Homo sapiens: one gene and its partner. The main gene of each other region encodes a partner of the protein of the gene in region 2 in a complex. Each region holds a gene or a part of one and is shown on either strand. Other genes may lie near its edges. The genes, in order: DISP1 and SHH.

Region 1 (6,761 bases), on a different chromosome or scaffold from region 2:
CTCACCTGACCTGGATCTGTCTCTGACATCATGCAACGTATCCTGTGAAGTGCAGCACTATTTTGTGCGATCACATCTCTTCATTCACGCCCGTCCTTCTGTGCCTTTAACATAATTGTGGCCTGACACAGATGATGCTCATGGCTCCTGGGTTAACAGCTAAAATTACTGAACAACTGTACATTTTGGTTAAAGTGGAAAAGACACTGGTGTGGATATACGTGTGTTCTTGGCTTCATGTAAAGTCTACTAAAGCAGACATGTGGAATGCATTATTAAGGTGCTTGGCAATTGATTTTTTACATGAGGCCTCACCAAAAATGTAAGTTTTAATTTAGTTCTTGAATCCCAACTGAACTGGCTCTATTAAAATTAGAGCAATTCCTAGTATTCATGTTGAGCAATCAAAAGTACTGATTACTGCCCACGAAATACACTAGAATGAGGATACCAGGTGAATATGATGGCCCGGGAGAACGGAAACTTTAAACTTTAAATCTCCGACTCACTGCAGTGGGAGGGTAGAAAGAGAGACAGTTATTTTTCAAGCTGGGCATAAATGTAAAAAACAACTATACTTTTTGAAAATATAAAATCCAACAATCATCCAATCCAATAACCTAACGCACTCAGCAGATTTGTAAGTTTGTTGTTCCTACGGAATATAAAAATATTCTAAAATTGTTAATGTGAAACATGCTTGTTGCTGTATTTTTGGGCTTCTTTTCTAAGCTTCTGGATTTTACTTCCATGTTAAAAGAATAATTGAGGCACTGGTTCTGAATTGAATGCTGCATTTATTATAGTGTTTTTATTAACAAACTTTCACCAGAAAGTTCCGAGTGTGTTAATACAGCAGGCACATTGGCTTCCATGTTTGGCATTTGACAGTCCACAGAATTGCACTTCACTCTCACAATTCTGCCACAACTTTGTGAATTATTTGGGCAAGACCTACAACCAGCCTCCCCCATTAAATGATTAAATAGGACTTTTGGTTCATTCTGATTGAAATGTTCTGAGTTCACACTTGCATCCGTCTGTGACAAGCTCAGCTCCACTTTCCCTCCTGCCTTGTTTTCAGTCCCTCCACTGCTCTCCAGATTGCTCACGTCTCTATTTTTACAGAGTTCCCTTTGTTTATTCTCGGGGTCGCAACACGTTTTGAGTAACGATCCAGTGCTTCTGCAGACAAATGACGATGGCTCTGCCATCTTTGGAAGATGCTCTTCTATGCTCCTCTGAAGACTGTGTACATTGGTCTTGCCAATTTTTTCTTGGGCCTGAATGTGCTGCACTGGGTGGAGGAAAAAATTCCTAGGCAGAGAATTCTGCATTCCGGCTGGCTTTACTCTGCCCTGCAGGCAGGGACAGTGGTGGATGTGCGTGATGGGGTGCACAAAGCCCTCGACAGCTTGGTGTGTGGCCTTCAGAGGTGCCACGCCGTTTTGGATCTGGACAAAGCTGCTAGTGGTAGGAGAGCACTGGTGGCACAAGCAGTCCCCCATCTGCTGGCAAGAGTGTGGGCCATAGTTCAAGTGTTTGTAGGCATCTGGGCAGCTACATCTCTGATTCAGAGAGAAGAAGTGACACACGGTATGCTGTTCAAGAGGGGGCTGTAACAAGGCAGAGCCAGCGTCACTTTCAGTGCTTTTGCTGAGTTCACTGTTGTAAGCTGCATGCACAGGCATCCCTAAATTCTTTGCTTGGCTGTTGAAAAATTCAGAGCAGATGTGGGTCTCTTCATAAGTGGTCTTCTCAGGGGCAGTGCAGCTGTGGGAAGCCAGAGGTTCTAATTCATAAAACTCATGCTCCAGTTCAGATTTTGGGCCCCTGGGATCTAAATGATAAGCATTTATGGTATGTGTTTTGCTTTGTCCCTTGTCACTGGGACTTGTAGACAAGGCATGGGAAAAGGCACTGCACTGTAGTTTTTTAGGTAAAGGAATCTGACCACAGGTACCCTGTGGTCCAAGGCACCGGCACATGCACTGGAAAAAGAAGGTGGCGAAAGCCCAACTGATACACATGATGAGCATCATGAAGGTGCCCAGCTGGGTGTAAGCTAGAACTGTGGAGGGCATCATCATGGCCCCTGCCACGAAGGTGGTCAGGGCAGCCATGGCCATCGCAGAGCCCACGCGACTCAGAGAGAAGATCACTTTGCCTTCTCGGTCGGGATCTGGAGCCAAGCGGTAGGCAACCCCATAATGGACGGCAAAGTCTACAGACAAGCCGACGGCAACCGAAATGGTGACAGATTCCAACACATTGAGCTCCCAGCCCAGCAGGACAAGAGAACCAACAGTGACAAATATCGTTCCAGCAATTGAAATGATGGCATAAAGGCTTATGATGATGTTCCAAGTTGTCAGCAGCATCACGCTAAATGCAACAGCAACTGACAGCCCCATGGCAATGAGGGTGCCATCGGAGAGGCTATCCTGGAGGTCATAGAACTCCAGATTGCTGACAAACCAACCATTGCTGAGGCCTTCAGGGGCCGAACTCAGCTCACTGGATATCCACGAGTCCACCTCTTTATAAAACTGATGCATCTTTTCATAAGCCAGTGTGAAGAGGTAGGTACTCTGGAACTCTAACACCACTGCCCTGATAGTATCATTGATATCAAACCTCGGCCCTGGGGTTTTGCTATCCAAATGGTACCCTGTACTCCTTTCCAGCTCCATGATAGCTCTCTTGATGCACAGTTCAAAAATCTCTTGCTTGTAGGGGAAGCTCCAGTGGCTGCAGCATGGGTACAGGGCAGGCTCATCACAGTCCTGGTTTTCCATCCACTGTTTGAATGTCTCAATGAAGCAGCTGGTGAAGTCCTGTTCATCAGTCTGGTAAAAGAATGTTTGGTTTCTCAGTTTTTGACAGAAGTGCAAAATCCAGGCCTGGGAAGCTGGGCTGGCGATGTTAAAACTGCTATCTAATGTCAACTTCCCTTTACTCTTGGGATTTAGTGGGTTGCCATTGTCTTCTGGGGACACGCCCCAGATTACTGTGATGGGCATGTGGAGCTCCTCGCCATGGTGAACACGTTCAAACATGAAAAGCTTTTTGTATTCAGCATCATAACGCTCAAAAGGATGGGACGACCGGAACACCTGGAACTCGGATAACTCCAGTGAGGGCAGTTTCATCTTTGGATTTATACATACAATGTAGGCCCCACCTACAGTTAAGGCAAGGAACCAAAACAGCCAAAGGTAGCGAAACTTAATGACAATGCATGGCAATACTTTTTCGAAAAAAATTCGAGATGCTTCTGAAATGGCAAAGAGTACTTTGTGGCACTTCTGGCAAGCCACTGTCCAGCAGCTTTTGTTATCATATATTTGCTGCTGGGGCTTTTTGAAGCAAGTGAATATATTAAGAAGATACCGCTCATGCAGCACAACAACTGCTGGAAGCCATGTGACCATCAAAACGTAATTCACCAATATAGCTGTCCCCGCATAAACCCCAAAGCATCGGATTGCTGTAATGTTGCTAACATAGTTAGCATAAAAGGCAGCAGCAGTGGTAAAACTGGTGACGAACATGGAGAGGGCAGCGTGCTGCAAGGTGATGCTTACTGTTTCTGAGGTTTCGGCATGAGGCTTATCAAATTTTGTGTAGTTCCAAACATCACACAGGACAAAAGCATCATCTGCTCCAATTCCAACCAAAATAATGAGGGCAGTGAGGTTCATAAAAGGAAAAAATTCGAAGTGAAATACTACACGATAGAGAAAATAGGAAACAATCAAAGAACTGATTATTGCAAACATTGTCATCAGAGTGATAAACATGGACTTGGTGTAGACACACATAACTAAAAGGACAATCACAATGGCTATGGCAGGATACACAGTATCCATTAGAAGATAATCCTGAAACAAACTGTGTTTGATACCAAACTCAATCCCGGTGATGGTAGTCACGCCGTCAGAAGAGTTCCAGTTTTCAAAGTTGTCCAAGTAAATGTTCATCATGCTCTCCCCTTTCTCTGTGGGAGAGAAGAGCATGCTGTATTTTAAAGCTGGCGTGGCATAGTCAGCCGTCTTTGGGGTCATAAAGTCTTTGTCCACCAAGTAATGGAGGATCTGGTACACAGCATTGTACTTGGTACATTTGCGTGGCACATTGGTGCACTTGAGCTGGTCCTTTCTTCTGGCTGCCATGTCCCAGCAGTCTGGCCCCAGAGTGCCATTTTGGTAGTGTTTGGCACAAGTCCGAAGCAGCTTCAAGGTATGAGAAACGTCTCGCTCAACTATTTTCTGACAGGACGATCTATTGTTCAGAATGGCGATGTAGTTTCCCAGTGTCCAGCTGGGGCAGCAGGAGGCAGCAGTGGTCCTCTGGCAGAGATCACCAAACTGGGGATGAGATCTGATCTGCAGAGATAGAGACAAGCAGAAGGACTACAGTTTAAATTGGTTCACAATCGTTCACAACTGGAAAGGACTGCACTAAGGTGATCTTGAGGGACAGGGAAAGTTACAAAAGCTAAATAATTATCCACTTAAACTAGGAATCAGTTTGAATACAGGGTGAAATTTCCCCTAAATGGCGTCATGTTACAGGATGCCCTTTAGGTTACTTTATTCTGAATTAAAAACTACTGTTTGGGGATGACATGCAAGTGTGAAACAACTTCAACCAATGCTAGTTTTGTTTACAAAAGGAGATCAAATTAACACCTACTTAGTCAACAAGCCTTTTCAAAGCCACTTTAAAAAGCAATAAAATGGACAGGTTGTGAAGCTTATGTATATACATGCATAGGATTAAGAAAACCGTACACTTGATATATGAAACAAATTTGTGGTTTTGCCTAAAATTCTGGTTATCAGCATGAAATTGTTGGTGACTAAAGTACTATATTTCAGTCAACACAGTTAGAAGCAAAGATGATATTCCCTAGAGAACTGCTTTGGTCTGAATGTTTGTGCTCCTCCCAAATTCAAGTTGAAACCTAATCCCCAGTGTGTTAGTGTTAGGGGGTGTGACTTTTTGGAAGGTGACTAAATCACAAGGGAGGAGCCCTCATGAATGGGAGTAGTGCTTTTATAAGAGGTCATGAGGACACGTAGAATGCCCCATCTATGAGGAACAGGTCCTCACCAGACTGAATCTGCTAATTCCTTGATCTTGAACTTCTCAGCCTCTGGAACTATAAGAATTAAATTTTTGTTGTTTATAAATTACCCAGTCCGAGGTATTTTGTCACAGAAGCCCAAACAGATTAAGACAAAGACTGTTTGGTGAATCAAAAAGTGACCCCAGTAATATCAAAAGTGCTGATGTCAAGAAGCATAAAGGTTTGGAATAAAATTGTTTCCTGAAGTATGAGTAGAAAAGGGCAATGTTTCTGGATTAAAATATGATTGATATCTGATTTTTAAATTGGTATATACAATAAAATAAATGCCTAAGTAAGAATTTAATTATTTCTTCCATAAAGTTTATTCAAATTGGCAAAAATCCTTTTTTTGAAAACTTTCTCTTTTGGTAAATGAGGACCTGCTGCACATTAGCAAGTATGGTAATTCTGGATTTGGTGTGGACAGTATTTCATTTAAAACACTATTCCTGGAGAAGGCTTTCCATCTTATGGCTATTGTTATAAAAAATTGAAAAATTGTTCCATCACTGGTTTGCTAGATTAAAGTCTGAACCATTCCATCCTGTAAATTAGATGAGTAGCCCCTCTTCTCTGAGGTGAGAATAAGAAATATTCCTCTTCTCCTGAGCCTGACCAGAGACTTCTCTTTAGGAGAACCAGAACTAAAGATGACCTGGTCCTATCAGTTTCCCTCATCTCTATTTACCAAAGGCTGTTCCAGGGAAGAAACTCCAAAGTTCAAAGAGGAAGTGAATATTTTTTTTTTCTAGTAGGATTAAAAACACTCTTTACCTTGATTAAACTGGCTTTATCAATCATGTATTGAAATGTCTTCTCAAAGTAGAGCAGAAGCTGGCATGAATCACTGCTTCAGAACTGGGACTTACCCAAGAACCAAGTTACCTATGATCCCTGAACTCTGTTTATCAGGATACTTTCCTGGGACTAATCCTGTGGGGGTGGGGTATAGATGAAACAGGACTGGCCATGTGTTGAGACTGTGGAATTGGGTGTCCTATTTCGACAGTCCATTATACTATTTCTCTACTTTTGTATATGCTGGAGAATTTCCATAATAAAAAGTTGTTTGTTTTTCTACAGATTGAGGGTAAAGAAAAATGAACCCAAAAGGTTTTTGTTCAAATGTACTAAAATAATATTTACTTTAACAAAGCCTTCATTTTAAAGCTCATTTTTGAGGAGCAATCGTAAACATTCCATAAACTAGGATAATTCATACTTGACTGTTTCCAGATAAAAACATTCACATACGCTAACTTAGGGAAAACTGAACCACCCAACAACAGGAAACCCTGGAATGGCATCTCACTGGTTTTCATGGCAGGTTACCAGTTTTACCTTACAAAGACGTAACATACAAACCACTAGGGTCAGCTTGATGAACTGAATGAAAGGTAATGCAACCCCAATGTCTGACAGTTTTCAAATGGAAGAAAATGAACTGTATCCATTATGAAAATCCATTATCAGCTAGAAGGAAAATACCTGTAGTTGCTGAAATAACCAAATGCCAAAGATAAAGGACATGGAGTTGCCAACTAAAACTGGGAGAGAAAGCATAGAATTCTGTCCTTGAATAACCTTTTCAAATAATAGCACATTTTTAGATGTGTATAGTTGA
Region 2 (3,288 bases):
AATTTATTATGATCATGTGAACTGTACTCACGGGGGAAAGATTATTTTGTGAGGCCAAGCAACCTGCTCAGAGTCTATTTTTCTACATGTCCCTCGTCCCGGCTGTCAGAAAGCAAACCTCTGTCCCCGCCATCCCTCCCTTCCATCTCCTGCTTCTCAGCAAGTGCAAACTCAAACGTGCTTCATGGGGGTCCACAAATTATATTTTTATACACAGAATTGTAAATTAGATTTTTTGAGAGATCAATACTTAACTGAATTACATTTCATTTTTGAAATAGTGTAAAATATGAAAATATATTATTTTAATTTAACTAGTTTCCGATGTAACAGCCATCTCCTCTGTTGTCTTTATGGTTTCATATTCCCTTTGTATTCACCATTTTGCCACATTCTTGGAAGCCAAGACTGTTACACACACAACATACACACACACTTTTCTTTTTCTTTTCTTTTCTTTTTTTTTTTTTTTTTTTTTTTTGGACAAACTGGAAGAACTGTTATTTTTAACTTCAAAGAATTTATTAGAAAATAATATTTTTTAAAAGCGCACATAGTGACGAGCCCACGAGGATGGAGCCTGCAGTTTGTACAGAGAAAACAAAGGATGTTTTTGCATTAATAAATTGAGAAATAACGCTGTAAATTTACTAAAATGTATTTTTGAATATTTTGTAATAGTTTTATAGAAATAAAATGTGCCATGCACAGAACGCTTAGTATCTAATAACTAAGAATTCCTGTTGCAGCCCTTTTTCTTTTAGTTTTTGGCTTCTTTGTTTGGGAAACCTAGCGCTGACAGGAGCTCCCAATATTCTATTTAGATGTGTTGCTTATACTGTGAACTCAGACTGACTGACTTAGGTAACCAAAGTAGGCACACAAACCAACTTGTTTCTTCTCATGGCTGGAGAAACCTCAGCTCTGTTTGTATTTATTGTGTGAAGCTCTTTCTACACTCCCAAAGGTTGGGAGTGCCATTCGTGGGGACTGTGCTGTCCCCCTCACCCCACCCCTTAACTAGCAAAGCCTGATGTGTAAGCCCAGAGGAGGTGGCCTGGGGATGGCCACCAACAACCTTCTCTTAGGACTCCTGTGTGTGGTTGCTGGGCAGACCCCTGGCCTGACCCTGTTTGTGCTTCTCTGATCTGTAGGGAGGAGGCTCATTGCTGCTTTCTGAGGTCCTGTTGTGTCCCTTCCAGAAAGCATCCTTAGAAGAGAGGACCCGGTTTGATCTTCTCTGAAGCTCCTATCCTCTTTTCTTGAGGGTCCCCTTAAATCTGAGTGGCAAGCCCACAGTGGCGAGGGCCAGTCGCTGGAATGTCGGGGCTGCTGTTGAGGTCCTCAGGCTACACTGGTTGTCTGTGTCACATGGCGGTCGGGCGTGGACTTTGATCCCTGTTGAGAGAGCATGCTGCTGTGGGCGCTGGGCTGGGGAAGGTCCTTCCATGCTTCATGCTGCCTTGGAGGTTTGGCCAAGAGGGTCTCTGCCCTTGGCGGTTGTCAGGGTCCCAGGTGGAGGACTACTCCCAGTTCTTTGGCTTACGGAAGGTGTCTGCCATGCTTTGTGCTTTGGGCCGAATCGTCTGAGCAGGCTGGGCCTTGGAAGAGTTGCGCTGCATGAGCTTGGGGCCTCCCAGCAGCTGCAGCCTGTGTAGAAGGTGGTCCAGGCTTAGGGAACAGGAGTGAACAGACTTCAGCCCCACCTGGCAGGGGCTGGCTCCCGAGGTTGGGCCCAGTCCCTGAGGGTCTGCTCTGCTACGGGTCTGCCCTTGAGTGGCCTTCCGTGGAGGGTGTGTGACCAGGTGGATGGCGCAGGGCCTCTGGAGCCCTCTCCTCAGGAGCAGTCCTCAGCCTTTTTCTGTAAAAGACTTTTCTTTGGTGTTCTAGGTGGTCAGCAGGTTCCAGGCTGGTGTTTACAATCTCGGAGGAAGTGCGATGGTTTCTGTTCTTTTGACAGTTCAGTCTGATTTCAAGTCAGTCGAAAGCGAACCAGAAGCACCGGGCACAGCAGCTCCTCTGGCTGTGTAGACAGACCTGGCAATGTGGCCGTGCAGCCCAGACGATCAGAGAGAAGCCAGGCGTTGACCAAGCCCCAAGGTGCCTGAGGCCATGGTGCAACTCTGCTGGTGACTGGGGCACCTTGGAGCAGAGCTTCACCCGGATGGGAAATCCTCACTCCTGGGTGGCACTCCCTCCTGGACAGGCCCGGTGGCAGAGTGTCCGTGCTGCTGGGTGCTGTCCCCAGCCCTCCTGGTCCATCTTCTTAAGATGCGTCCACTGCTTTATATTTAAAATTCTCTTTTTCACAGGCAAGGAAAGGAAACCACTGCTTAGAGACACTAGGTACAGGGCATCAAGAGGGTGCAGCCCAGCCCCGCCAGGACGAGGCGCCGACTTCTCATTCAGGGTTGACGGAGCCAAGAGTTTGTGCAAAATGTATGCATGGTGGTTGCTGCCAGCCTCCCTCATGACTAAATGCATATCTATTCCTGTCAAAACGTGTATCACAATGTACTTGAAACTGTTATCTTTGTGCTCTATTGTTTGAATAATTAAAGAAATTACAGAGACTCTCTTCAGTGTCTGTTATGTGGCAGAACCCCGCTCCCGAACTGTCATCTGTGTTTCTCATCGTCTTCCACGAGGTAGTGCTGGGACTGTGAGGGAAATTCTCATTGAGAGTGCAGACTCCATTCTCTCAATGGGTGGGTTTGGTCAGGCTTTGGGAATTTTTACTGGCGCAAGGAGGCAGGCACGTGACTCCCCTGTCTGAGGGAGTTGACAGAGCTGTCAGCATCGCACCCACGTGGGAAATATGGGGCAGACATGCAGGGAATACCGGTCAGTTACAAGATTTGGCAAGAAAGCAGCAGAGTGCCTGCCAGGGAGGCGGGCGGGCCTGCAGGGAACCAGCTCTTCCTCGGCGCACGCGCTCCGTCCTTCCGGATGGTGATCCACTCTAGGAGGCTGAGAAGCCCAGGAAGCGACTTCCGTATGACTTCTTACAAACGAGTCACAAAACCCTTCGTGAGCCCTGCCGTTTCCGGGCACTCCCTGGGATTTATGTTCCAGGACAGAGCTGGGCAAATTTTGGCCTCTGGGACAAATCTGGTCCGAGGGCTGTTTTCACACAGTCCCTGAGCTGAGACTGTGTTTACATTCTTAAAATGTTTAAAAACAAAAAATCTAAAGAAGACTGCTATTCTCTGACATGTGACAATTCTGTGAAACTCAAATTTCAGTGTCCATACATAAAGTTTTATTGAAACACACCCACACTCACTC

Evidence for each region.
Region 1: the proteins of SHH (region 2) and DISP1 are in contact, whole or in part, in a cryo-EM structure (PDB 7E2I), measured with the Homo sapiens proteins. Residues at the interface, in NP_000184.1 of Homo sapiens: Pro49, Asn50, Val51, Thr55, Leu56, Gly57, Ala58, Arg68, Glu71, Phe73, Lys74, Leu76, Thr77, Pro78, Tyr80, Pro82, Arg96, Leu97, Gln100, Lys186; in NP_001356523.1 of Homo sapiens: Lys242, Thr244, Gly245, Tyr246, Lys247, Ala248, Glu260, His265, Arg299, Phe336, Gly337, Asp338, Leu339, Cys340, Gln341, Arg342, Thr343, Glu459, Arg899, His904, Asp906.

Annotation. Positions count from the first base shown.
Region 1 is NC_000001.11:223,000,012-223,006,772, reverse strand, and holds the end of DISP1 (protein dispatched homolog 1), read right to left. Parts: intron 4,389-6,761; coding exon 801-4,388; 3' UTR 778-800; downstream 1-777. UniProt on the Homo sapiens protein: Functions in hedgehog (Hh) signaling. Regulates the release and extracellular accumulation of cholesterol-modified hedgehog proteins and is hence required for effective production of the Hh signal. Synergizes with SCUBE2 to cause an increase in SHH secretion.
Region 2 is NC_000007.14:155,799,270-155,802,557, reverse strand, and holds the end of SHH (sonic hedgehog protein isoform 1 preproprotein), read left to right. Parts: 3' UTR 1-2,312; coding exon of another isoform or gene 2,313-2,551; 3' UTR 2,552-2,578; downstream 2,579-3,288.